Linked DNA regions of Homo sapiens: region 1 is linked to region 2. The links come from fine-mapping of genetic effects on gene expression. Tissue or cell type: testis. Region 2 holds a variant in brackets; the other region holds the start of a gene. All regions are shown on one strand. Distances are between the middles of the regions.

Region 1 (12,774 bases), 20 kb before region 2:
TTTCATGTCAATGACCCTTCCTTCAAAATATCCATCACCTCAAAATCTCTCCCAGAAGCAAGCATGAGAAAGAATGAAAATGCCATTTTCCATGTCTCCACACTCCACACAGTCTCCACACTGAATACTTGCTCCAGAAAGTATGCCCTCAGCTATTCCCCATCTCTTTTAAGTGTGGAACAGAATATGAATATTTTAATTTAAAAGCAGATCCTATAATAGGCATCTGTGAGGTCACTCCAAAAATTTAATTTTGTGAACTATGTCACTAATAATTTTTTAGAGAACCTTGTTTATTACCTTTCAGCTTTATTTTCCTGAGCACTCAAATGTACCTGCACATACACAGGGTGTTTGAAACACAATTTTGAGCGAATGTATAGCATTCTATCTGTGGTTAGGCCCTGATTTGTTTAACAATTTCTCACCTGTTGGATATTTTGGTTTAATTTAATTTTGAAAATGGTCTTGTTGGGTTCACTGGATAATTAATGGAAAATATAGGCAAAAATTTGATATTAAACATAGTTCACATGTAGGGGGTAACTTACAATAACTTCAAAAACTGAGAAGCCCTAACATTTTTCCTGCCTTACATTAGGATTGGAGGACCAAAATAAAAGTGCCATTCATAGTGAGCACAAATCTGACCCACTATATAAGGAAATCTGAAATGCTATTTTTTAAAAAAAGACTTCTACACAAATTTTTAAATCCTCCACTAGGAGTCCACTTCTTTTTTAAAAGTAATTTTGCATATCTACACTTTGGGTGACTATACAAGTATTTAATGATCACTTCAGAAATCCTAGAAAATATATTAAAGTTAAAAAAAAAGTCACCATCCACTAATAATTTTTTAGACAACCTTGTTTATTACCTTTCAGCTTTATTTTCCTAAGCACTCAAATGTACCTGCACACACACAGGGTGTCTGAAACACAATTTTGAGTGAATGTGTAGCATTCTATCTGTGTTTAGGCCCTGATTTGTTTAACAATTTCTCAGCTGTTGGCTATTTTGGTTGTAATGTTAACCTCTTAAGATAACTTTTGGCCATATAGTCCTTGAATACGTCATATTATTCAAAATCTTTGTGAAACATGGCTAAGGGGCGATGTTAGGCCCAGGAAAAAAAGGAGACTAAGAGAAATACTTCAACAGTATTTGCCTTTAGATGGTGGGATTACAGGTAATTCAGGTTCTTTGCTGTACTTTTTTACCACATCCAAATGTTCTCTAATGGACACATGTTGATGATCAGAAAACAATGTAGTTATTTACTAAAATAAAGATCAACATTTCTACAGACAGCTACCATTAAAATTCAATACAGTAATCTGGGAAAAGGATGTATGTTATGGGAAAACAAAAAGTAGGATTTAAGGTTGTAAATATGTACTTATAATAACAGAAGACTAGATAACCAAATGTTCAACACCAGGAGGTACTCCTTAACCAATCTATGGTACAAAAGACTACCGTGAGCTAACTGAAAGCATGAAGCAGATGGCCACTTGCTACTACAGAAAGACTGCCAAGATAGGTCAACAACTGAGAAGACTGAGGTGTGCAACAGCATGGATCATGATTACAAGGTAACAAAAAGAAAGAGAGAAGGGTGGAAGAAGAAGAGACTCTTTTTTTTTTGAAAAGAAGTCTCACTCTTTTTGCCTAGGCTAGAGTGCAATGGCACAATCTCAGCTCACTGCAACCTCCGCCTCCCAGGTTCAAGTGATTCTCCTGCCTCAGCCTCCCAAGTAGCTGGGATTACAGGTGTGCACTACCATGCCCGGCTAATTTTTTATATTTTTAATAGAGATGGGGTTTCACCATGTTGGTCAGGCTGGTCTCGAACTCCTGACCTCAGGTGATCCGCCCACCTCGGCCTCCCAAAGTGGGGATTACAGGTGTGAGCCACTGTGCGCGGCCAAAGAGACTTTTTTATAAGCATAAAATATATCTGAAAGGCTATGTAAAAAACTGTCCACAGTGGTTACTCTGGAGTGGGGATAAGAAGTTGGGTACACAATATGATCACAATCTGAAAATATGCACTCATACATACAGAACACATAAAAAGGAACTACACTGCTCATAGCAGAACTTCTGAATCCATTTAAAGGCTGTCCCCTAAATATTTTTAGATGGATATTGAAAAATAATGAAAAAAATGGAAAGCTCAATCTATCTGAATTATAGGGACTCATGAAATCAAAAGACAGCAGTGGATATAAATGTTATTATAATTGGTATTTCAAAACCCAGTCAATCATATTAAGTTTTTACTACAACAAGATTGGCCAGGGAATTGGTTATTCAAGAAAACTAACTTCTAATTAAATCGTTCTAGAACTTGTTGAATATGGGTGATTTTATTCAAAATTTTCCTGCCACAGTTACTCCAGTTTACAAGCTTGGTAATCTAACAATGAAATATATCGCTGTCCATTTAGGCAATAACAAATGAAAGGAAGACATTTTTACATGTTAAGATTTAACACAGCACTTTTCCCTCTAAAAACAAAGATAAGAAAACCAATTACAGAATCAGGGGCAGAGGGTCTTAGGAAGGCAGACACAAAATTCTCCTAAACTAGATCATTACTATTTTAAAGCTCTCTTTAGTAAAAGTCTAACTAAATAAGAATTATTTCATCGTGTGCAACATTAATGCTCCAGATGCAGATTGGTAACTAAGGTTGTCCCTAGTTTTTCTAAAAATCAGATGTATAGATTAATAACACATCTGCACTACTGAATATGTATGAATGCTGTTTCACTTGACTGCACTTACATAAAGAAAATACAAACTCATTTTATGTCGGAATGCAGTCACTAAGTTGGAATCCTTTTGATGTGTATGGCTTTCTTTCAAACACGCGACTTTTTTTTTTTTTTTTTGCTTATTAACACTAATGTGTTTTACTGAGTTTCCCTGAGTGCATGTATTATAAAAATATCATGAATCCCCAAGGATTCATGACCACAATCGGTCACTGTGAGAAACAGCTGGTAATACTGGGTAACATCCCAGGGTAGAGAACTCAAAATCAGACCAGATAATAGAAAGAAAAGCACAGCTTTCACCTCACATTTGGGAACTGACAATTCTCCTTCCATTTCCTCTCTCAGTGTGGCTCTTGGGTGTTTGGTTAGCAGAAGGGGATAGGAAGATAATACGGTTTATTTATAGGCTCCCTTTTCCTTTCGGGGAAAAAAAAAATCACCCTTTCCTACTAAGAGTATGGCAGAGGAGGGATTTTTAGTGTAATGGAAAGGCAATAGACACGATAATCCGGAAGATCAGAAAGATGATCTGTCTCAGCCCTATCACATAGACAGCTGGGCAATTTAAGAATGTGTCTCACCTAAAACATGGGACCCAGGGCAGGAAATGAAGGTAGCACCAGGAAGTGCACTCTCTTACTTTCAGTGAAAACGTTCTTGCCTGTGAGGAGCTAATATTGAGTGACACTCTATTACACCCCTAAATGGCGCTACACGCTGCGGCCACTCTGTTGACTGTTCATGTTAACACTCACACAGGTGTCACAGCAAACAACCATCAATGCTACTTCTAAAGTCGCCCGGTTCCATGAGGAAAAGACCACATGCTTTGTACCACCCAGGCCCAGGCCGTTCATAGGTAGGGGCTTAGCTGACGCCTTTTGAGATACTATGTTTCTCTGCGTCCTGGAAGTTAAGCTAGGGTTGTTTTCCTTTATATACTCCGATTTTTAAAAAAAATTTCTCTGCACTACCTCTTTACCACTGTGGATCTAAACCTTATAATCTAAACCACACCCTCAGCAATCGGAACAGAACGGAAGTTCCCACTCCAGGAAATCTTGAGAAGGTTTGGGAGGGTCAGGAGTGGCACGGGAAAGGAAAAGTCTGGTCAAAATCAAGTCTGTTTAAGTCCGTCGAACCTACTTCCAGGCCATTTGGTTTTCCGTCTCCTGCCCTGCTGGTCTTTCAGGCCACTCGGCCGGCGCCGAGGTGATTTAACACCTGCCGCCGCAGGCCCCGCCTCCGGACTGCGGGTCCGGATCCCTCTCCTAGGAAAGCGCAAAGGCTGCCTTCACAGTCACCACTTTGGAGACGTTGCCTCCGCGCCCTTCCTAACTTTGGAAGCTAAAAATGAGGGGGGGTGGAGGAGAGAGAAGGCCGTGCGGAAAAAGAGCAAGGTTGTCCCCCCTTCCCAGGGCCGCCCCCTGGCCGAGTCGCCGGCAGCCGCCTCCAGCTCCAGCCCGTCCTCCTACAGCCGCGGACCCCGTGCCCAGGGCGCTCCGCGGAGGTGGGATGCGAGCGGCCTCCGGAACCAGCCTCGACCAAGGCAGCGCCCGCGACCGCCGCTCCTTCGCGGGATCGGGCCTGGCTGCCCCGTGAAGGAGCCCATGGGGGCCTCCGCCTCCCCGCGGCCGGCCCCGCCTCCAGCCCGCAGCTCCCCGGCCGCCGTCGGAGCCCTTACCCGCAGAACGTGGTAGCCCTCGGTGCCCCCGCCCGGGATCTCGACGCTTTGCGAGGAGCCCATGGCGGCGGGCGATCGGTGTGGCCGAGCCGGGCTCCGCGCTGCTCCCGCCCCCAGCGCACCGCCTGCTCTAATCCTCCGCGTAGCACTTGGGACGTGGCACTCGCTGCCGCCGGAGAGCCGGGCCGCACAGCCCGCCGGGAGATCGTCTCTGCTGCAGCCCGGGCCGCTGCGACGCCGCAGACAGCGCCACCTGCCGCGAGCCACTGGAAGGGGCCCGAGCGCTCGCGGGCCGGGAGGGCGGAGAGGGAGGGCCGGAGGAGGACTGGGAGGCACCGCGTCGTGCTCGCGAGAGAACAGAAATGCGCTTCCCCCAGCTTTGGCGCCTTGCTACGGGGCCCTGGATTGGACTAGATTTATGCAGACGCGTTCCCGCTCGCCTGAAAGAACACATACTTGGTTGCAGGTCCCCCTGGTGGCCAGAGGCGGGGAAAGGGCTGCTGATGAACAGGAGCGAACTCAACACACACCAAGCTCTCTGTTCTCCGGGTGTGTAGGTATTTTCCCAAACTGTACAGCTGAGGGGAATAGTGGCCTCCTGTGGGCTGCCTAGCATCTGCTCAGCTAAATTTTATAAAAGGAAACGCTCCCTTTATAAAACAGTAGTCTCACAGAGTCACCTACCAACTTCTTTTTTGGTTTGGGTTTGTTTTTTTTTCTTCCTCCCTAATTGTGAGAATAAGATTAGAGGATTGGTCATAATCAGAGCGATGCCAGCGTGGGAAGCACGGTTGGATTTCCCTGGCATTCCACCACCTGCTGCTGCTCGGTTCCCCGTCCTACCTCCTTCAGGTAGCCAGGTCGTATTCATGCTTATTCCGTTGTCGTATTCCGTTGCTGCTTTTGCCCCTTACGTGTACTCCCTCTGAAACCCCTAGTTGCTTTGTGGTCAGTTGGACTGATGTTGCGTCAACCAGGTATTATGTGGATTCCTATGTGATGCAATGTAAAGTACGTGCTATCGCCCATGAAGTATTCTAGCCCAAGGTGGTTAACTTGCCTCTATGGCATCTTGAGTTTGATGTTTACAGGAAGTAAGGGGAATTGAGGAGCAAGTAAAATGACACCACAGGGAACCAGGCAAATACAGGAAGTGGGCCTTCCTTCAGGACAGCTGGCCAGTTCTCTTTGTCGAGTCAGAGTCCTATGAAAGGGCCTATGCCAGATTAAAAGGAACCCGAAGAATATAACCAAGAGACACATTGCAAGGGCTTGAGTTGGGGGCCAACTTGGAGAAATAAGCGTAAAGGACATTTTTGGTTCATTTGGAGAAATTTGAATATGTACTGAGTATTAGAAGAGTAGTTATTCACATGGAAACGTGGAAATTATTGTCTTTTTTAAAAGCTGGTTACAAGACGGGATGTGTCTGTAGACAAAATGAAAAACATGTCCTCAAAATACAGATTAATATGTATGTATGCATATGAAGATGTGGGAGGAGAATATGAACCAAGGGTTACAGTGGTGATCTCTGGGTGGTGACAGAGATATTTTATTTTTTGTTTTGGCTGGTTCCATATTCTATGATGCTCATGAAGTGCTTTTGTAATAAGAAAATATTATTTAAAATTTAAAAATAATTTTCTTTGCTATCGGTAAGTGAATAGCAGATTTTTAGGAGGCCTAATAAATCCATAAATCCATAAATGAAATCTCCAGTTATTAGGCTCCTCAAGGACAGGGTCTGCAGTGGAGTTGGCTCTATGTTCTTGATATTTACCAGAATGCCTAGCAGCTAATTCAACAAATTAATACATTTAATGCAAGAGAATAAATGGAAGAACTAGATCTAATTATAATGTTCTCATTCTGCTTGGCAATTATAACCCTCTTTATGATGGAAGCTGCTGCCATGTTCAGTGGTCAAAATTTTTGGACCAGTTGTCTCCCATATGTCTGATGGCAGCCGCGGCCTATAGAACCCAGGCTGTGGATCGTTGGTGGTCCATGGGCAAGTCCAGCCCTTCCTTAGAGCTGTAGTGTATGTTTCAGCCTCATGAGTGGCTGCTTGTTATTCTCCACACAAGCCATTTACTTTCTTACCTTCTTGATTTTATTCATGCTATTCTCTACTTCTGGAATGCCCTTCCTTACATTTTCCACTTAAAAAATCCTAACTTTGAAAAAATCCTAATCCTTTAAGTCCCATCTCAAATGTTACTTATTTATCCTTAAGGTCAGTGTGACTCTCTCCTTGCCATGAAACAGTTCCTTCATTTCTATGACATCATCGTCATCATCACAGGCCTGTCTTCCACCATTCGTGGTCCATTCATTCAGAGCAAGGATCATATTTTTTTTTTCCTTCCTTCCTTCCTTCCTTCCTTTCTCTCTCTTTTCTTCTTTCTTTCTTTCTCTCTTTCTTTCTCTCTCTCTCTCTCTCTTTCTTTCTTTCTTTCTTTCTTTTCTTTCTCTCTTTCTCTTTCCCTCATTCCCTCGCTCCCTCCCTTCCTTCCTTCTTTTTTTTCCTTTCTTTCTTGTGAAATGGGTCTCACTCTGTCTCCCAGGCTGCAGTGCAGGGGTGTGATCACAGCTCACTGCAGCCTCCACCTCCTGGGCTCAAAATCATCCCTACCTCAGCCTCCCGAGTAGCTAAGACTACAGGCACGCACTACCACACCCAGCTAATTTTTTTGATTTTTTGCAGAGACGACGTCTCATTATGCTGCCAGGCTTGTTTCGAACTCCTGGGCTCACATGATTCTCCCACCTCAGTCTCCCAAAGTGCTGGGATTATAGGTGTGAGCCACCACACCCAGCCGATCATGTTTTTTCATCTTGAGATCCCCAGTTCCTGGTTGAGTATTGGGAACATGGTAGTAGTGTTTATTGATTTGAATTGAATGTGTGTAATGAATAGCTTCAAAGCCTTTTTTTCAGAATCAGTTAGTAAGTGACCTCTGTGGCTACTATTTGTGTCTCATCAAAATCTGTGGGTTTTTTTTCTTTTTTTTCCTAATTCCCAGGGTGATGGTAAAAACCCATGTTATTTCTTTAGCAGCAGTTGGTGGAGGGTGTGAGGGTGAGGTACAGGGCCCACCTGGTTTGGGACTGAAAAAATGTGAGAATGATTGCTCCATTTTTCCTGGTGCCAGTTGTTTCCTCTTTTAGTTGGAGAATACGCTCCAACAGAAGGCAAATAGTAAAATCTCAAGGATATTGCCAAAGCTAATATAAATAATACAACATGATGGAGGGAACACGTGGTAGATTATTGTCAAGTCAGCTTCAATTGGAGTAAGAATCTGCTGCAGGCAGGTTGGTATTTTGAAACATCAGAGGCAGCAGAAAAGTGAAGTCCAACAGAAGCAAATGTCTACAGGCTAAAAAACCGGAAGTAATCTATTCTTCTGGAAGAAGTATCTGGTACTCAATTTTGTGTGTGTTCTGAGTTCCATTAACATTAATTCTGAGTTCTTCCTTCCCCTCCCTTCCCTTCACCTCCCCTCCCCTCCCCTCCCGTCTTTCCTTCTAATAGAGTCTCTCTCTGTTGCCCAGGCTGGAGTGCAGTGGTATAATTTCAACTTGCTGCAACCTCCACCTCCCAGGTTCAAGCAATTCTTGTGTCTCAGCCTCCCAAGAAGCTGGGATTACAGGCATGCGCCACCATGCCCAGATAATTTTCATATATTTAGTAGAGATGGGGTTTTGCGGTGTTGGCCAGGCTGGTCTCAAACTCCTGGCCTCAAGCAATCTGCCCACCTCAGCTTCCCAAAGTGTGAGCCACCACACCTGGCCAATTCTGAGTTCTTGTAAATAAGTTGTTCATGATGGAGGGATCATTTTTATCATACACATTGAATATCCCTTATCTGAAATGCTTGAGACCAGAAGTGTTTTGGATTTTGGATTTTGGAACATTACTGGTTGAGAATCTCTAATCCAAAAATCCAAAATCCAAAGTGCTCCAATGAGCATTTCCTTTGAGTGTTATATCAGTACTCAAAAAGTTTCCAATTGGAGCATTTTGGATTTTTAGATTATTAATACTCAGCTTGGTATTGGTTAGTGCAGCCTTATCTTTTTGCCTTCAGACTACCCTGAGAAAGTTTGGTTCCTACCATATTTGAATAAGAACCACATTGGATAGGGCAGATGAGAATCTCCTAACCTAGCCTGTTTTGCTGAGGGAGCTAACCACATGAGACCACATGAGAGACCATGTTATGTGTCATGCACTCTCAGTCACAGCTGACTGGACTAGAGGGAAACCCTGATATACAGGCAGCCAATACCCACACTGAATGAGGTGGCCTTTAGAAAAGGTTCTCCCCCCACAAGTGGATGGTAGTGACCAGCTACACCAATCAGGTTTTCTCTCTGGGGACTTGGAACTGGGAAATACAAGGAGACACTCCATCAGTGTATATTTATTTGCATATTAGAATGTAAGCTCCATTAGGGCATGGACTTTGCCTGAGTGTTTACTACTGTGCTCTTAGTACTGACAAAGAATTGGCACATAATAGTTAATAAATGGCTGTTGAACGTATGAATGGTCGTGTTTGTAGTCATGTTGATGGCAGTGGCGATCCGTATGGAGTGGCCATTGCAAGGACACCAGCTGTAGCGGGGGAGGTGTGGCCAGGGCTGTGCACTCGTTGGCCCGTGGGGGCCAGGAACAGTTGAATCCCAGTGGGAGCCCCCACGCCCTACCGAGTTGGTGGGGTGGGAGCCCACCAACTCCTGGGTGCAGCTGCAGCTGCCCAGCTATGGCTCCAGACCCAGGCATCCCTATGCTCTCAGGGGCTCAGGAAGCCTCCTTCCCCCACAAGCTCAGAAGTGCCTGCTCCCACTCCCTGGCCTCTCCCTATCCCTAGCACCCACTCTGGTGTGGAACACAGTTGTGGCCGAGCCCAGGTACTGGTGCAACCCAGCCAGGTGTGTGTATCCTTGGGGCAGTACTGAGGCACCAGCCCTCTGCTACCTCGGCCCCTTCAGACTTTGGGCACTAATGAGCATGGGAGGAAGGCTGGGGTGCTGAGGGCAGCTTGACGTGGGCCTGCAGACAGCCTGGGCACTGCAAATGGCCTGTTGATGGTGGCAGGAGGCAGACAGGTTCCTAGGTGGGAAGAAGCAGGTCCCTGGTGAAACCCCATCTTCAGGCCAGGCCTAAAACCTAGGGGCCTGGCTCCCAGTTCCAGGTGGAGTTCATGACCCAGAGTGAGAACTTCCTTGATGCCTTTTGGCCAGTTGGATGGTGCCTTTTCCATGAACCAATCAGCATGTACTTCCTCCCTTCTGAGCTCATAAAAACCCCAGACTCAGCCAGACTCAGAGACTCATCAGGATTACCTGCTTGTGGATAGGAGCTACCCACTTTGGGTCTCCTCTATACTCGTTGGGAATACCTGCCTATGAATAGGAGCTACCCACTTTGGGTCTCCTCTATACTCATTGGGAATACCTGCCTATGAATAGGAGCTACCCAGTTTGGGTCTCCTGTCTGCTGAGAGCTGTTTGGTTGCCCAATAAAGCTCTTCTCTGCCTTGATCACCCTCCAGTTGCCCATGCAACCTCATTCTTCCTGGATATGGGACAAGAACTTGGGACCCACCAAATGGCAGGAGCAAAAGGAGCTGTAACACTTCCCTGGCTGGTTCCCTGAGCTATGGTGGGAGCTAAAGGGCTGCAACACTATAGCTCTCCCACCCTCTGCTGGCACCAGACAGCTGCCCCATGCGATGGGAAGCAGCAGCGGGGCTGGGCTAGCCCAGGAACTGTGGCCCAGAGTGTGGCAGCAGGACTGAAAGAGCTGTAACACAAATGGGCTGAAACATGCCCCCCAAAACACACCCCCCCACTCACCATGCTGCGGGCAATGAGAAGGAGAGAAGAGCTGTGGCCCTTCTGGATGCCCAGACCTTGGGGCTCCCTGAGCAAGGGCTGTGACACACTGTAACACCTTCTTTGGCACTCTGTAGTTCCTGGCATCTCTGAGCTTTTAGGTGCCACTGGACTCCCCTTGTCTAGATGCTGGTGCCCACAGTGGAAGCCGCTTGTGGTATATCGGGTCCAGCTGCAGCGTCACATGGAGCCAGCGCCTGTGCCAGTGCCTGGAGCTGCCCACCCTGCCACAGCAGCCAGTGTGCCTGGCTGTGCAAAGAGGCAAGAACCTGTGCTCACTCGTTCACATACCCCTCACTGCTCCACACCTGCCTCAACCTTGTCAAGTGTGGGATCCAGGCCGGCAGCAAAGCAAGTGTAGCCTGCCAGGCCAAGTGGGCAGGACAAGCCCAGCAGGCGCAAGCAAAACTCAAGCAGAGGTGCTGCTGATCACAGAGGTTTCCAGCTGGCAAAGCAACACCCTAAGGATCCTGTGACAATGTCAACAGAAAAGCACTAGAACAGTGGTTCTTAAGCTGGGGTATGTATCAGGTTCACCAGGGAACCTGGTAAAAATACAGAAGTCCCAGTGCTAGTCTACTTTGATGACCCTGGTCCCAGTATTTGTCATTAGTTTCCAGGTGATTCTGATACACACGTTTGAGAACTTCCCCATTAGAGCAATGTTTAATAAACTTCTGCTTTTTTGTGGGTAATCAGATAATGAATAAGAATCTCTAGAGCTGGGAGGAATCCTCTTAGCAATCAGACTTGACCACAAAGACCCAAATTGTGCTCAGTTTCTTACATATCTTTGTTGTTTCCATCACCTTTATTGTCAAATTTTTCTTTGTCTTTATCTATTTTCTAGACAAAATTTTGATTTTGGAATAATTTTCAATTAAATAAAAATTTGGGTAGAGACAGGGATCTTGCTAGTTTGCCCAGGCTGGTCTCGAACTCCTGGCCTCAAGTGATCCTCCTGCTTTGGCCTCCCTAAGTGCTGGGATTACAGGCATGAGCCACCACCCCCAGCCTGGAATAATTTTAGATTTAAGGAAAAGTTGCAGCCAGTACAGAGAGTTCCCATAGGTCCCCTTTACCCAGTTTCTCCTATTGTTAACATCTTACATCAACCACAGTATATTTGTTAAAACCAAGAAACCAACATTTGTACATTATTAGTTAAACTCTAAACTTTATTCAAATTTCACAGGTGTTTCTACTAATGTTCTTTTTCTGTTGCAGGATTCAGTCCAGGCCTACATCACAGTTAGTTGTCATGTCTCCTTTGTCTTCTCTGGTTTGGGACTGTGTCTCAATCTTTCCTGTTTTTCATGGCCTTGAGAGTTTCAAAGAGCACTGTTCAGGTTTTGTTTCTTTGTTTGTTTATTTTTGAGAGGGAGTGTCTCTCTGTCACCCAGGCTGGAGTGCAGTGGCTCAATCTCTCAGCTCACTACAACCTCCACCTCCCGAGTTCAAGTGATTCTCCTTCCTCAGCCTCTGAGTAGGTGGGACTACAGGCATGCGCCACCATGCCCAGCTAATTTTTTTATTTTTAGTAGAGACAGGGTTTCACCATGTTGGTCAGGCTGTGCTCAAACTCCTGACCTCAAGTGATCCACCTGCCTTGGCCTCCCAAAGTACGGAGACTACAAACGTGAGCCATCACGCCTGGCCCTGCTCAGGTATTTTAAAGAATATACCTCCTGTTGGGTATGCCTGTTGTCATGATTAGACTGAGGTTATGGATTTTGGGGAGGAATACCACAGAGGTGAAATGCCCATGCTTATCAGGTCATATCAGGAGTATGTGCTATTAACATGACTTATTAATGGTGATTTTAACCTTGATCATTAAGATGCTGTCCATTTTAATAGTAAAGTTACTATGTTCCCCTTTTTCCTATGGAAGCAAGTCACCGTGTCTAGGCATCCTAGAGGGTGTGTGTGTGTGTTGGGGGAGGGGAATTAAGCTGCACCTCCTGAAGGGGGTTATCTATGCAAATAATTTGGGGTGGGGTGTGGTGACTCACACCTGTAATCCCAGCACTTTGGGAGACTGAGGAGAGAGGATCACTTGAGGCCAGGAGTTTGAAACCAGCCTGGGCAACATAGGAAGACCCTGTCTCTATAAAAAATTTAAAAATTAGCCCGGCATGGTGGCGCACACCTGTAGTCCCAGCTACTCAGGAGGCTGAGGTGGGAGGATCACTTGAGCCTGGAAGACTGAGGCTGCAGTGAGCCGTGACCAGTGCCATTGCATTCCAAACTGCAACAGAGTAAGACCCAATCTCCAAAAAAAAAAAAAAAAAAAAAAAACCCAACTTTGGGAGGCTGAGGCGGGCAGATCACAAGGTCTGGAGTTCAAATCCAGCCTGGCCAACATAGTGAAACCCCATCTCTACTAA
Region 2 (16,966 bases):
CTGTAAGCTGAGATATGGGTTGCAACAGAGAAAGAGGTTTAATCATAGTGAGAAGTGACAACGGGCTAACAGCCCTTGCTCGCTTTGGGCGCTTCCTCAGCCTCAGCATCCACTCTGGCCACGCTTGAGAACCCCTTCAGCCCACCGCTGCACTGTGGGAGACCCTCTCTGGGCTGGTCAAGGCTGAAGTCAGCTCCCTCTGCTTGCGGGGAGGTGTGGAGGGAGAGGCGTGGGCAGGAATGGGGCTGCACGCAGTTCCAGATGGGCGCAGGCTCGGCAGTCCCCACACTCGGAGCGACCCAACCCCGGGCAGTGAGGGGCTTAGCACCCAGGCCAGCAGCTGTGGAGAGTGTGCTGGGTCCCCCCCGCCCCCACACTACCGGCTTGCCCGCCCCGCTTGAATTCTTGCTGAGCCTTAGCTGCCTCCCCGCAGGGCAGGGCTCATGACCTGCAGCCCACCATGCCCAATTACCCATCCCCCACTGCCCATGGTGGCCTCTGGCACCACCTGAGCCTCCCCGATGGGCACCGCCCCCTGCTCTGCAGCGCCCAGTCCCATCGACCACCCAAGGGCTGAGGAGTGTGCTTGGGCTGAGGAGTGCGGCTCCCAGTGCAGGACTGGCAGGCAGCACCGCCCATGGTGCTGGCTTGGCGCGGGATCCACTAGGTGAAGCCAGCAGGGCTCCTGAGTTGGGTGGGGACTCCAGAGAACTTTTATGTCTAGCTAAGGGTTTGTAAATGCACCAATCAGCACTTTGTGTCTAGCTCAAGGTTTGTAAATGCACCAGTCAGCAACCTGTGTCTAGCTCAAGGTTTGTAAACACACCAATCAGTGCTCTGTGTCTAGCTAATCTAGTGGGGACTTGGATAACTTTTGTGTCTAGCTAAAGGATTGTAAAGGCACCAATCAGCACTCTGTGTCTAGCTCAAGGTTTGTAAACGCACCAATCATCACCCTGTCAAAACGGACCAATCAGCTGTCTGTAAAATGGGTCAATCAGCTCTCTGTAAAATGGACCAATCAGCAGGATGTGGGTGGGGTCAGATAAGGGAATAAAAGCCGGCTGCCCAGGCCGGCTGGGCAACCCGCTAGCGTCCCATTGAATGCTGTAGAGGGTTGGTTTTTTTTTTTGCTCTTTGCAATAAATCTTGCTGTTGCTCACTCTTTGGGTCCGTGCTGCCTTTATGAGCTGTAACACTCACCGCGAAGGTTTGCAGCCTCGCTCCTGAAGCCAGTGAGACCACCAACCCACCAACCCACTGGGAGAAATGAATAACTCCAGACGCGCTGCCTTTAAGAGCTCTAACACTCACCGCGAAGGTCTGCAGCTTCACTCCTGAAGGCAGCGAGACTGCGCACCCACCAGAAGGAATAAACTCCGGACCTATCTGAACATCTGAAGGAACAAACTCCCGACACAACATGTTTAAAAACTGTAACACTCACCACGTGGGTCTGTGGCTTTATTCTTGAAGTCAGCGAGACCAAGAACCCACCAATTGCGGACGCGGTAGGACTGCCAAATAAAGAGACTGGAGGAAACCTCGAATTCATCTCCTCAAGGAATTTTGGGGCTAGGATTTTGGAGTGGGCTGGAGTGTGGAGATCATTGACTGATCAAAAAGTGCAGGGTGAAGTCATGGGACAGGGAGGTGAAGAACCTGTATTCTCATCCTGATTTGGTTCCTCTGTGGGGATCTTTAAACTTGGTGTCAGCTGGTCACTAGAATTCAGAATCTGAGGTACATCTTAAGTAATTCTTAAACAAAAGCCTCCTGATTCTAACATCAGGAATCCTGTCTCTAGGACCAATGGGGATGCAAATGATTAGTATCTAGTGTTATTTAGGTTTTTAAAAAGTGGGTCAAAGTGCAGTCTCTAACAATTAAAAGTACATTTCTGTTCAGGATTCTTGCTAATCTTGTGAGAATGGCTTCATAACCAGGAGTCACAAACTCGTATGTCCACGGAGGGAATTAAGTTGGGCTGAGTATGTGGGAGTGGTGGGGGCCGTGGGAAATAGGAATTCTCAAGCCCCTCCTAAAAGGGCTAGCTACTGCTAATCTCCACCTGATTGAGGACGTTAAGGAATTGGAGTCTAGTGTTGTCAAATTTGATTTTTCAAGAGATCTAGAAACTTACAGTACTCTTATGAAATCAACCAATTTAAAAAATATCAGTAATCATGGCCAGGTGTGGTGGCTCATGCCTGTAATCCCAGCACTTTGGGAGGCAGAGGCAAGCAGATCACTGTATAGGCCAGGAGTTCGAGACCAGCCTGGCCAACATGGTGAAGCTCCATCTGTACTAAAAATACGAAAAAAAAAAATTAGCTGGGTATGGTGGTGCCACTGCACTCCAGCTTGGGTGACAGGAGACCATGTCTCAAAAAATAAAATTAAATTAAAAAGCTGACAATACTAAGCACTAGCAAGGATGCAGAGCACCTAGAACGCGCAAACATTGCTGGTGGAAATGCAAAATGGTACAGCCACATTGGAGGACAGTTTGGCAGTTTCTTTTGAAGTTAAACAAGCACTTAACATATGATCCAGTGATCTCACTCCTAGATATTTACAGAAAATAAATGTCCATCCAAAATGTTCATACAAAAACCTATATATGACTGTTTATAGCAGCTTTGTTGTCTATTTAGTGTTAATCTGTCTGGAAGTAAACTAAACTCCACAGTGAGGTTTTCCCATTGGGTGGGTATCCTGGGGAAAAGAAGCTCTTCCCTATGGAGTCTTTTCATGCCATCATTGCATGCAAGGGATCGCTTGACCATCCATGGTACAAATGTTCACAGTGCAGCCACATAGCACCTAGGGGAAAATGAGGGCAATGTTGGGGATAGAGTGAATGAGAAAGGGAGAAAAAGAATGAACTAAGGAAGGGAAAATTATTTAGCTGGTGGTAAAGAATGGAATTGACCTGATCATCTCAGGCCCTACCTCCTTGAGGCTGATCAGGACACAGTAGGGCACACTGGTACCATGTCAGTGGAACTGTGCCTAGGACTTCTCTTTGAGCATTTAAGATAATGTCTACAGAGATGTTGTCAGGCTGGACATCAACCTGTTTGGGGAAGGGTGACCTTAGTGCCTTTCTTTCAGCTATGGCATGAAGTTACCAAAGCGATTAGATGGAAAGAAATGTTTTTTCCAGGCTGGGTGTGGTGGCTCACACCTGTAATCCCAGCACTTTGGGAGGCCGAGGTGGGCGGATCACAAGGTCAGGAGTTCGAGACCAGCCTGGCCAATATGGTGAAACCCCGTCTCTACTAAAAATACAAAAATTAGCCGGGCATGGTGGCGGGTGCCTGTAGTCCCAGCTTTTCAGGAGGCTGAGGCAGAAGAATTGCTTGAACCCAGGAGGCAGAGGTTGCAGTGAGCCGAGATTGCACCATTGCACTTTAGCCTGGGAGACAGAGATAATCCATCTAAAAAAAAAAAAAGAAATATTTTTTTTTCCCTACAAATCATGCTGGAACAATTGGATAGGCAAATGCAAAATATAAACCTCAACTCTTCCCACACCATATAAAAATTAACTTGAAATGGGTCCTAGACCATTTTCTTACCCAAGTGTAAAAACAAACATTATAAAACTGCAAGAAAAAAAAATAGAAGAAATCTTAGCAATTTGGATTTGGCACAGAATTATAAATAGGTTTCAAAAACACAGTAAATTGGACTTACCAAAATTTAATGCTTTTGCTCTTCAAAAGAGAATTGTTAAAAATGGAAAGTCACAGAATGGGAGGAAATATTCTCAATACATATATGAAACCCACAGATGACAAAACAATAAATGACTTGAAGGAGAAAGACTGGGAAGGCAAATTAATAAGGAAAAGATGCCATCTCAAGAGGCAGTAGGGCAAATAATTCAAACAAGTAATTATAGAAGATGAAATCAGATACCCAATAGAAATATGAAAAAACCCAAGTATCTCCAGAAAAAAATTTTTAAAGTCAATTAAAATAGGTTCTACCTATAGTGAAAACTATAAAATATTGCTGAAGGAAATTAAAGGAGACCTAATTAAATGAAAAAAATACCATGTTCATAGCTTGGAAGACAATATTGTTAAGATAGCGACACTACTCAAAGCAATCTAAAGATTCACTGCAATACCTATCAAAATTCCAACAACCTTTTATTGCAGAAATGGAAAAGCTGATATTCAATTCGTATGCATTGCATATCCCACCTCCCACAATAGCCAAATAATTCTTGAGAAAAAATGCTGGGAGCAGTGGTTTATGCCTATAATCCCAGTACTTTGGGAGGCTGAGGTAGACGATTGTGTAAACCTGGGAGTTCAAGACCAGCCTGAGCAACATAATGAGACCTCATCTCTACAAAAAAAATTAAAAAATTAGCCAGGCATGGTGGCACATGCCTATAGTCTCAGCTATTCGAGAGGGTCAAAGCTTCAGTGAGCCATGATTGTATCATTGCACTCCAGCATAGGTGACAGAGTGAGACCTTGTCTCAAAAACAGAGACGGAGAGAGAACAAAATCAGAGGACTCATACTTCTTGATTTCAAAACTTACTACAAAAATACATTAATCAAACAATGTGATACTAACATAAGGATAGACATATAAACCAATGGAATATAATTGAGACTCCCTAAAAAAACCCATACATCTATAGCCAGTTGATTTTTGATAAGGATGCCAAGTTCATTCAATGGCAAAGGAATAGTCTTCAACAAATTGTGCTGGGACAACTGGATAACTACATGCAAAAGAATGAAGTTGGATTCTTACCACACTCTATATATGAAAATTAACTCAAAATAGATTAATAACCTAAGTATAAGAGTTAAAACCATAAAGCTCTTAGAAAAAAACATATGGGGAAACCTTCATGACTTTGGATTTGGAAATAGATTCTTAGATATGACACCAAAAGCACAGGCAACAAAAAAAATAAATTGCACTTTGTCAAAATGAAAAACTTTTGCACCTCAAAGGACGTTATAAAAAAAGTGAAAAAACCTATAAAATAGGAGAAAATGGGCTGTGCTCAGTGGCTTATGTCTGTAATCCCAACACCTTGGGTGGCTGAGATGGGAGGATCACTTGAGGCCAGGAGTTCAAGACCAGCCTGGGCAACATAGCAAGACCCCTACAAAAGATTTAAAAATTAGCCGATCATGGTTGTGTGCACCTGTAGTCCTAGCTACTTAGGAGGCTGAGGCAGAAAGATCCCTTGAGCCCAAGAGTTATAGTGAGCCCAAGGTTATCATGAGCTATGATTGTACCACTGCCCTCCAGGCTGGGTGACAGAGCAAGACTCTGTCTTTAAAGAAAAGAAAAAGAGAGAAAACAAAATAATATATCTGATAAAAGTTTAACATCCAGAATATATAGAGAACTCCTGCAACTCAATCACAAAAAGACAAACAACCCAATAAAAAATAGACGAAGAATTTAAACAGACAGTTCTCTAAAGAAGGTAAACAAATGGCCAAAATGCATGTGAAAAGGTGTTCCGCATCATTAGTCATTAGGGAAATGCTAATCAAACCCCAGTAAGATACCACTTCACACCCAGTTAGGGTGGGTATTATTTAAAATACCCCAAAACCAAAAGCCAAAAAGAAAAGAAAGAAAGATAAATAGCAAATATTCTTGAAGATATGGAGAAACTAGAACTCTCATGAGTTGCTGATGGGAATGTAGAATGGTGTAGCCACTGTGGAACACAGTGTAGTGGTTCCTCAAAAAGTTAAGCATAGAATTACCATATAACCCTGCGGCTGGGCACAGTGGCTCATGCCTATAATCCCAACACTTTGGGAGGCCAAAGCGGGTGTATCACCTGAGGTCAGGAGTTCAAGACCAGCCTGGCCAACATGGCGAAACCCCATCTCTACTAAAAATACAAAAATCAGCTAGGCATGGTGGTGCACGCACACTCCTCAGCAAAGGCAACTCCCCAGCTACTCAAAAGGCTGAGGCAAGAGAATTGCTTGAACCTGGGAGGCAGAGGTTGCAGTGAGCCGAGATAGTACCACTGCACTCCAGCCTGGGCAGCAGAGTGAGACTCTGTCTCAAAAAAAAGAATTACCATATAACCTAGCACCTTTACTCCTGAGTATACATCCAAGGGATTTGAAAACAGGGACTCAAACAGATGCTTGTACATGAATGTTCATAGCAGCATTATTCACAATAGCCAAAAGGTGGAAACAACCCAATTGATCATAACAGATGAATGGATACATATGGATGAGCCTTGAAAACATTATGCTAAGTGAAATAAACCAGACACGCAAAAAAAATATTGGGTGATTTCACTCATATCAACAATCTAGAATAGACAAATTTATAGAGACAAAGTAAATGAGAGGTTTGGGAGAGGGGAGAATGGAGAGTTATTGCTTAATGAGATAAAAGCTTTGGAAATAGTGATAGGGTTGCACAACATTGTGAATGTAATTAATCCCACAAAATTGTATGCTTAAAACTATTTAAGTGGTAAATTTACATATATATAAAATAGAAAAAGATATACATTTATTTCATAGATATATATCACAATAAATTTTTAAAAATAGATACTACCTTTTTTTGGCTTACCTTTTTTTTTTGATGGAATCTCACTCTGTCGCCCAGGCTGGAGTGCAGTGGCACGATTTCGGCTTGCTGCGACCTCTGCCTCCCGGGTTCAAGCAATTCTCTGCCTCAGCCTCCTGAGTAGCTGGGATTACAGGCGCTTGCCACCACTCCCGGCTAATTTTGTTAAAATATTTTTAGTAGAGACGGGGTTTCACCAACTTGGCCAGGCTAGTCTTGAACTCCTGACCTCAGGATCCACCCGCCTCGGCCTCCCAAAGTGCTGGGATTACAGGCATGAGCCACCGTGCCCGGCTTTGGCTTACCATTTTAGTGATAAACTCAGCGTTAGCAAAATTATGTGCACTACTGATGGAGAGAGTTTAAACTGTTGCAAAATTTCTAGAGTTAGGTCTACCCCAATTTGCAGAACAATAAACTAGATACACAGTGGTAACAATAGGGATCAGTGAGGGATGCAGTTGTCATTCATGGGTCATATTTCCAAAAAAAAATTTTTTTTTTTTTTGAGACAGGGTCCCACTATGTCACCCAGGCTGGAGTGCAGTGGTGAGATCACAGCTCACTGTAGCCTGGACCCCAGGCTCAGGTGATCCTTCTTCCTCAGCCTTCCAATTAGCTGGGACTACAGCCACCCACTACCATTCCCCGCCAATATTTGTATTTTTTGTAGAGATGGGGTTTCGCCATGTTGGCCAGGCTGGTCTTGAACTCCTGGCCTCAAGTGATCCACCTGCCTCAGCCTCCCAAAGTGCTGGGATTACAGGTGTCAGCCACTGTGCCTGGCTTCAAAAATCTTGTTCTATTGAAAAATGTGATAGTAAATATAAACACAGCTTCTTTACTGTTTATATTACCATTTTCTTTACAGAGTTTTTTTTTTTTTACTTTTTAAAAAGTATAAGTTCCAGGGTACATGTGCAGGATGTGCAGGTTTGTTACATAGGTAAACATATGCCATGGTGGTTGGCTGTACCTATCAACCCATCACCTAGGTATTAAGCCTTGCATGATTTAGCTATCTTTCCTGATGCTCTCCCTCCCCGCTCTTCCCCCACTCCAGACAGGCCCCAGTGTGTGTTGTTCCCCTCCCTGTGTCCATGTGTTCTCATTGTTTAGCTCCCGCTTATGAGTGAGAACATGAAGTGTTTGGTTTTCTGTTCCTGCGTTAATTTGCTGAGGATAATGGCTTCCAGCTCCATCCATGTCCCTGCAAAGGACATGATCTTGTTCCTCTTTATGACTGCATAGTATTTCCATGGTATATATTTACCACATTTTCTTTATCCAGTCTATCATTGATGGGCATTTGGGTTGATTCCGTTTCTTTACTATTGTGAATAGTGCTTCAGTGAACATACACGTGCACATATCTTTATAACAGAATGATTTATATTCCTTTGGATATATACCCAGTAATGGGATTGCTGGGTCAAATGGTATTTCTGGTTCTAGGTCTTTGAGAAATTACCACACTGACTTCCACAATGGTTGAACTCATTTACATTCCCACCCACAGTGTAAAAGCGTTCCTATGTCTCCACAGCCTCGCCAGCATCAGTTGTTTCTTGACTTTTTAATAATCGCCATTCTGACTGGTGTGATGTGGTATCTCATTGTGGTTTTGATTTGCATTTCTCTAATGATCAGTGATGTTGAGCTTTTTTCCATATGTTTGTTGGCTGCATAAATGTCTTATTTTGAGAAGCGTCTGTTCATGTCCTTTGCCCATTTTGGCACCACATGGCGCTTACTCTAAAATTGATCACATAATTGAAAGTAAAACACTTCTCAGCAAATGCAAAAGAACTGAAATCATAACACTCTCTCAGACCACAGCGCAATTAAATTAGAACTCAAGATTAAGAAACTCACTCGAAACCACACAACTACATGGAAATTGAACAACCAGCTCCAGTGTTTTGTTTTTAAAGACAAAGATAATTGAATGGTAATGAATGCTGATCTATTTTTCTTAGACAATGACACCTAGTGATGGTATAGCTGTTTAACAAAGAGCCAATAATTTAATAACAAGTTATCCAAATTTTAGGCCAAATATTTATGGAGGCAATGCCCTAACAATTCTTTTTTTTTTTTTTTTCAACCTAAAGGTTTCTCTGTACACTAACAATTCTCAAGTACTATTTTAACAAACCTTCTGGTCAGGTGACAGTAGTATTTCATACCAAGAAAAAAGATTTCTGGCAAATAGTTGAGCTCAGACCTTCCATAAGATTATCATTACCTTATTTGAAATCTGAAATTATTTTGTTACTCAGAAAAAAAATCCTTTTCATGGTCAAGGCTAGGTATGGGGCAGGAAATAATAAGTGAGTTCTAGAGATAAATTACCTAAGGTATATTGTTAAGAGTAATAGACTGAATTGAAAAGAAAAAACATTAGTAATGGATAAATGAGATATTTTTGTTTCAAACAATACCAATCTCAAAGGGTCCTCCTTGAAGCTAGTAACCACGTTTCATTTCTTTGGGGGAAATGATTTATAAGAGATTGAAGGAAGCTCTTGTCATGGTACTAATTTGTTCTAAATTTTCCATCCATAGCATTTGATTCCATGTGTCAGGGTCTTTGCATTACCACATTGCTTTTGAGGACAGCCTCTATTTCCCCCTGGCCTCATCTGTTCACAAGGGTCTCAAATTGAAGGAGTTCTCCTGTCATCTCTCCCTAGCCCTCATTCATGATGCTTGATAGGTGGTATGGGCCTGGCATTCATTGGTTCATGCTTCTCAAATCAGCAGAGGAAATGAATTAAAATCTAAAAACACTGCAAGGAGTCTTGCCCCACTGGGACAACTCAAAATAGATTAATAACCTAAGTATAAGAGTTAAAAACATAAAAGCTCTTAGAAAAAAACATATGGGGAAAACTTCATGACTTTGGATTTGGAAATAGATTCTTAGATATGACACCAAAAGCACAGGCAACAAAAAAAAATAGATAAATTGCACTTTG[T/C]CAAAATGAAAAAGTTTTGCACATCAAAGGACGTTATAAAAAAAAGTGAAAAGTGTGTTGTTTGACTATGGACTTAAATGTTATGCCCAATTGGTCATGTGAGAACGTAAAGCTGGAGAGTATTAGGACAAACACTTATTTGTCCTCCTCAAGCTTCTACAGGGAGGTGATTTCCACACGCTTGCCACAAAAAATAAGTTAGGGAGTATCCCTTCAGCTTCTCTGTCTGGGGAGAGGAGTGGCGGATCTCACTGAAGTGTCTGGGGAAGGAACGGAGCATGCTCGGTTCCAGTCCTCTTGGCTCTCCCTGCTGGGTGAGACCAGCAGAGATCAGGCTTTCAGGTTTGTTGTTCACTCTGTGGTAAACATCCCGTGCTGGCTCTGCAGTGTCCAGCTGTCCTCCTATGACTGAGTGGAAAAGTAAATGCTGGGATGAAGAAGGATTAGGAAGCACACTGTGGCTGCACATTTAAACCATATACTTGAATTGCTTTCTCCATCATAATGGCATGACAAAAGTCACCATCTGCCTAAACCCTATGTCTTATCCTTCAAAGGACAGAGTTGGTTCTGAACTCTATGAGGATGAAAGGGGTGTGTCTACAGCCTCTAAAGTCCCAACAGGGTGCCGAATTTGTTAGCTACTCTTTGGTTAGAACCACCTTATAAACCCAGAGATACCAGAATTTAGTAATGAGGGACACATATACCATATTTGCTTGAGTTGTCCTCAGGTTTTTGTGATTTCCTGAAAACTTTATCTAGTCTCATGCCTTTGCTCTTACTGTTTTCTGCAGAGAACACCCTTTTTACTGGTTCTTTATTCAGTGAACTCCAGGAAGCCGTCTTTGACTACCTCCCACCTGATTAAAAATTCTTTTTACTTTATTCGATTTATTTATTTATTTGAGACAAGCTCTCACTCTATCACCCAGACTGGAGTGCAGTGGTGCGATCTCAGCTCACTACAATCTCCACCTCTAAGGCTCAAGCAATCCTCGTGCCTCAGTCTCCCGAGTAGCTAGGGCTACAGGCGTGCACCACCATGCCCAGCTAATTTTTGTTATTTTCAGTACAGACAGCGTTTTGCCATGTTGGTCAGGCTGGTCTCGAACTCCTGACCTCAAGTGATCTGGTTGCCTTGGCCTCCCAAAGTGCTGAGATTACAGGCATGAGCTACCGCATCCGGTCTATTAGATTTTTAGATTATAAAAGGATACAGACCATTTTTAAATAATAGAAAGGCAAATAATACAAATGATTATTATAATGTATAATTAAAATGATAAAAAATTCACAGTTCCCATACTCAAATTCTACTCTTCAGAAATAACCAATATTAAGAGTGTGGTGTATATAGTTTCACTTCTTTGGCTAAATATAAATGGATACACACCTATGCACACACCGGTTTTCTTTTTGCCCAAGCCCCCACCCCCCACACAAAAACAGGGTCGTATTATATACAGGACTCTGTGATGTGCTTCCCTTCCTTTCATTTAATAATATATCATGAACATTCTTCTATTTTGATAGCAATATTATAGTACATAATTTGATACTTGTTAAAATGCCTAATTTTTAGTTCCTTTTAAAAATTTTGCTGTATTATCTGACTTCCAAACCAAGACAATTACAAGTATTATCTTACTCTTAACTTAATGGAAATATATTTAATAATTCTTTTTTTTTTTTGACAGGGTCTTGTTCTGTTGCTCAGGCTGGAGTGCAGCAGCAGCTCAATTACAGTTCACTGCATTCTCAACCTCCCAAGTTGACGCGATCCTCTCATCTCAGCCTCTCACGTAGTTGGGACTACAGGCATGCGCCACCACACCCAGCTAATTTTTTTTTTTTTTCGGTAGAGACAGGGTCTCATAATGTTGAGAGACAGGGTCTCATAATGTTGCCCAGGCTGGTCTCAAACTCCTGGGCTCAAGCAATCCTCCCACCTTAGCCTTCCAAAGTGTTGGGATTACAGGCATGAGCCACTACTCCTGGCCGTTAATTCATTATTTAATATGATGTTTGCTCTTGGTTTTGTGTTTTGTTTGTTTGTTTTTTGCTAACTAGTCTTTTTCATGTTAAGATGGTTTCCTGTTAACCCTGTTTTACTTCAAGTTTTTATTAGGAAAAGCTGCTGAAATTTTTCAAGTGACTTTTTGACATATTCCCCCTTAATTCGTGACTTTTCCCATTTAACCTGTGGTATTTATAAGTTTTAAAAAATATTGAACCATTGGCATTCTTGAAATAAGCCCTTTTTGGTCATATTATTTTTCACTATACTGCTGGATTCCATTTGTAAAACATTTTATGTATTTAGAAAATTTTAAGTTTAAAGAGACTCTGTAGTCTCTTTTTTTCTATCAAGTTCTGTGCCTTCATAGTATCCTAGTCATGCTTCTATCATAGTACTTGTGACCTTGACGAAACTGGAGAGCAGGGACCAGATTGTATTCTATATTCTGTCCTTTGTGTCAAGCACAATGCTTAGGACATGGTAGAAGCTCAATGAATCTATTATATGTTGAATGAAAGAAGAGACGGCTTATTTATTTATTTCTCTATTTATTTATTTTTACTCAACATGCCTAAGGTAAAAAAGGAACAGCTTTTAGGAACATTTTCCTTTAATCCAGTTTTACCTACTTTTTGTGGTTTGCCATCTAGTAACTTTAATACCTCTTTTGTTCCAATGCCAGTGCTTCAGTGTTTCTCTCTTCACTAGTTCCCTTGAAGAAATATCATTATTGAATACAATATTGCAGTTAAAATGGAAAAACTAGAGCCACATGTATCAACATGAATAGATCTCAAAGGTATAAAGTTTAAAAAGCAAGGATATGTACAGCATACAATCTATGTAAAGTTTTAAAAATGCAAATAAGGCTGGGTGAGTTGGCTCATGCCTGTAATCTCAGCACTTTGGGAGGCCAAGGTGGATGGATCACTTGAGGTCAGGAGTTCCAGACCAGCTTGGGCAACATGGTGAAACCCCATCTCTGCCAGAAATACAAAAATTAGCTGGACGTGGTGGCTGTGCCTGTAATCCCAGCTACTCGGGAGGCTGAGGCAGGAGAATCGCTTGAACCTGGGAGGCAGAGGTTGCAGTGAGCCGAGATCATGCCACTGCACTCCAGCCTGGGTAACAAACCAAGATTCCATCTCAAAAAAAAAAAAAAAAAAAAAAAAAAAAAAAAAAAAAAGCAAACAAGGCCAAGTGAGCTCACACCTGTAATCCCAGCACTTTGAGAGGCCGAGGCAGGAGGATTGCTTGAGGCCAGGATCTTGAGACCAGCCTGGGCAACATTGTGAGACCCCATCTCTACAAAAAACAATTTTAAAAAAATTAGCCAGGCATTGTAACATATGCCTGTAGTCCCAGCTTCTCACAAGACTGAAGTGGGAGGATTGCTTGAGTCCAGGAGGTTTAGGCTGCACTGAGCCATGATTGCACCACTGCACTCCAGGTTGGACAGCAGAATGAGTCCCTGTCTCAAAAAAAAAAAAATGCAAACAGTACTAGGCACTTGTATTGGTTATGTGCTTCCACTCCTGTATTGCAAGAGGCTAAAAACCTGTGAGCTACATACCTGTTGCAGGCTTCCTTGCTAGTTGGATTCTGATTAGGTTTTGCCAATGCAAGGCAGTAGCAGGAGATTAGAAAACAGAAGAAAGGGTGATGCCATTTTTCTTTCTGTTCCTGGCAGTGCTCCTAGCAATGGCAGCAGCAGCAATAGTAGGTGACTGAAGAGGAGCATTTCAGTAGTATCAGTGGCTATTTTGGCAGTGGGAGTGCCAACCTGTAGCAACCCAACAGGGAAGAAGCCAAGTGAACAGGTATTCTGATCTCCTTCTCTTCCTCTTCACCTTTTACCAGTGCTTCCCATTGGCCAAAGCCAACCAGAAGCCAGAGATAAAGGGAGTCCAGTGAGGCAGTCTGCATCACCCACTTTTCTGAGCACAAAAAAGGTAGAGAATTGATCTGGCGGATAAATGGGTGAAATTGAACATAACCCCTTATTCCATTTGCATATTCAGCCCTTCCTTTCTATACCTTTATAACCAATTATCAGTATTACATCTCCTTTCTGTGAAATGCGTAGAGTGGTTTCCATTTTCCTGATTGGACAGTGGTTGATTGAATATAGTTTATGGATACAAACATGTAGCAAAGGAATAAAAACTTCCACGGGAATAATAAACCCCATGTTCAAGATACTGGTTACTGCTGGTTGGAAGAGAGAGAATGAAATTGGGAATAAGTACACAGGGGCATCTTCTGTATCTGAAATATTTATTTCTTAAGCTGGAAGGTGAATTTATGGATATTTTCCATATTATTGTCTATGTTCGTTATATTAGACTCTGTTTTCAGTTGCCAGAAGCATTTATTTATTCTCAAAACTCAGTGTGCATAAATTAATGAATGAACAAATGAATGAAACTTGACTCTGAATTCTGATCCTCTCATTTAATTGTTGTTTGAACTGAGATGAGTTAAACTACTTAAAGTTCTCTTATTTTGTGTCTTCATCCACAGGATAAGGTTAATAGTAGCCACCTTACAGCACTATTGTGATGATAAGTGGCATGATATATACAAAAGGTTCTAGCCCTCAACAAATCAGTCTCCTTCCTTCCTGAACTTTTAGAAAGAATAAGAGCTTGATTTTTATAAACGTTTAATTTTTGTAAGCTTTGAATTTAGAGACTGGATTTTTATATACTCTGTATGACTTAAGGCATACCATTGTGCTATGCATCAAGAAGGTTGCTTGCTTGTTTTTTTTGTTGTTGTTTTGGGACAAGGTCTCATTCTGTCACTCAGGCTGGAGTGCAGTGACACAATCATGGCTCACTGCAGCCTTGACCTCCCCAGGCTCAGGTGATCCTCCCACCTCAGCCTCCTGAGTAGCTGGGACTACAGGTGCGCGCTACCAGCTAATTTTTGTAGTTTTTGTAGAGACCCCCGTCTCTTCACCATGTTGTCCAGGTGGTCTCGAACTTCTCGGCCCAAGCGATCTGCCCTCCTCAGCCTCCCAAATTGCTGGGATTACAGGCGTGAGTCACTGTGCCCAGCCCACTTTCTTTTCTTTTAAAAATCATGTAATGGGCAGGGCGCGGGGGCTCACGCCTGTAATCCCAGCACTTTGGGAGGCCAAGGCGGGCGGAGCACGAGGTCAGGAGATCGAGACCATCTTGGCTAACAGAATGAAACCCCGTCTCTACTAAAAATACAAAAAATTAGCCGGGCATGGTGGTGGGCGCCTGTAGTCCCAGCTACTCGGGAGGCTGAGGCAGGAGAATGGCGTGAACCCGGGAGGCAGAGCTTGCAGTGAGCCGAGATCGCGCCACTGCACTCCAGGCTGGGTGACAGAGCAAGACTCCGTCTCAAAAAAAAAAAAAAAAAAAAAAGTAATGTTCCTTTAAAAGATTAAAAAGGGGTAGTTAAAAGAAGGGTAGTTGTTCAATGCAGAAAATTGGAAAAACACAGAAAAATAAATGAAAATAAAATTTACTGTAACTCTACCACTCATAACTGTTATAAACATATAGAAATATTGAAAATTAGGCTGGGCACAGTGTGATGTGCCTATAGTTTTGCCTATTAAGATGGCTGAGGCAGGAGGATTACGTGAGCCCATGACTTTGAAGCCAGCCTGGGCAATATAGCAAGACCCCTGTCTCTAAAATAATTTTAAAAAAAGACATAAAATTAGAATAATATTATATATAGTTTTGCAATATGGTTCTTTGATTTCATTTTATAGAGTATATGTGTTCCTGTGTCAAATATTATATGATATCACTTCCACTGGTTATATTATATTCCGATGGATGTACTTGAATTTATTTAACAAATTGGCCTATTCAGGATGTTTAGGTTTTACTAATGTTTCAGTACTGTAATTAATGTTGTAATGAATATCTTTGTTGATAAGTGTTTGTCTGCATTTCTTATAATTTCCTTGGACAAAATACTTGTGGAAATTTTGATCAAATGATATGTATATTTTATGGCATCTGAAACTTACAGCTATCTTGCTTTCAAGAAAGATTGTACCAAAAAAAAGCAGAAGGAGAAATTTACAAAGAAAGATTATACTAATTAATACTGCCTCTAGCAGTGTTGGAGGACACTACTTTTCCATAGCAGGAAGTTACTTTCAAAAAGATAAATTGGAACAAGCATGGACTTAGTAATGAAATCTACAACAGATTATAACTGGTTTGATGTTTAAAGAATACCAGCAAAATGCCACATCTTCACGGAGCGAGGACTGCCATGAGCCATTAAATATAATTTTAACAGGTTACCATGCAGAGGGATTCTAGCAAAGCTCACAAGTGTCACCTTCTATCTGGAATTAACTAAACATAAACATCAGCTGGAGGTGATCTGGAAACCAACTGATCTGTGGGTTTTCTAAATCCAGACGCAATAGTGATTTAGTTGGGAAAATGATGGAACAGGAGCCAGGGAAATTCTCTGCTCTTGTCTGGGGCCTGACACTTGGATTTTTTGTGTCTTGGACACTTAGCTCTTACCTTTCCTCTGCTTCCAGTTTGAAGAGTCTTAGACCCACTCTGAACTGATTAAATGGCAGGAAAAAAAAGATGGCAAAAAGTATCAGCTCAGCCAGGCGAAGTGGCTCACACCTGTAATCCTAGCACTTTGGGAGTTCAAGACCAGCCTGGGCAACAGTGAAACTTCATCTCTAAAAAAACATTACCTGAGTGTGGTGGCACACAGCTGTAGTTCCAACTACTAGAGAGACTGAGGTGGATTGCTTGAGCCTGGGAGGTCAAGGCTGCAGTGAGCTGAGATTACACCACTGCACTCCAGCCTAGGTGACAGAGTGAGACCGTGTCTCAAAAAAAAAAAAAAAGTGTCAGCTAATGAGAGCTTCCACTTATTAATTAATATCTGTAGCTATGAACCTCTGGCACCTACTAGCTTCATTTTGAACCAATGAATTTCAAAAATAATTAAAGTTAATGAGCTGCTCTTTGTGATAGGACCCTGACAACTTAACAGCCATTTGATGAGTGGGAAGTGCAAAGTGGGGAAAGTGTCACTTGCTGATGAACAGGATTTCCTCATCTTCAAGATACAAGAAACCAGCCCATAGGTGAAAGTGATGTACTATTGAGTCAAAGAAGACATAGGATGGGGTTTACAAATTTAATTGAAGGACAAGTACCAACCTTAAAAATGATTTCTCTAGGCTAAAATCAGACCTTCTTCCAAAGTTCTAAAATTATTGTGTCAAAATGTTGGTAAGAATTCATGGCAAAGTCTTCCATGAAGTCTGGGAACCCAAGAGAGTCAGTCATCACAGCCTAAGTAGGACACCAAACTTTCTATCCTTTAGTAAC

Alleles and levels. Positions count from the first base shown, and alleles are read on the strand shown. Sizes are in standard deviations (SD) of each study's normalised expression.
For the expression in testis of the gene that starts at base 4,625 in region 1, C is the high allele of the variant in region 2 and T is the other (moderate effect, 0.40 SD a copy in GTEx).

Evidence for each region. PIP is the estimated chance that this variant, and not a neighbour inherited with it, causes the effect.
Region 1: GORASP2 starts here. The variant in region 2 is fine-mapped to the expression of GORASP2 in testis (GTEx, PIP 0.95).

The regions. Positions count from the first base shown.
Region 1 is chr2:170,921,104-170,933,877 of GRCh38, reverse strand. GORASP2 (golgi reassembly stacking protein 2) reads right to left here and starts at 4,625. Exons shown (of 10, transcript NM_015530.5): 1 at 4,475-4,625. The coding sequence starts at 4,537. RefSeq lists a silencer at 4,147-4,846.
Region 2 is chr2:170,898,987-170,915,952 of GRCh38, reverse strand. No RefSeq gene overlaps it. Among named protein-coding and RNA genes, the nearest start is that of GORASP2, 22 kb to the left of the region's middle. The variant T/C (reference allele first, on the strand shown) is at 9,581.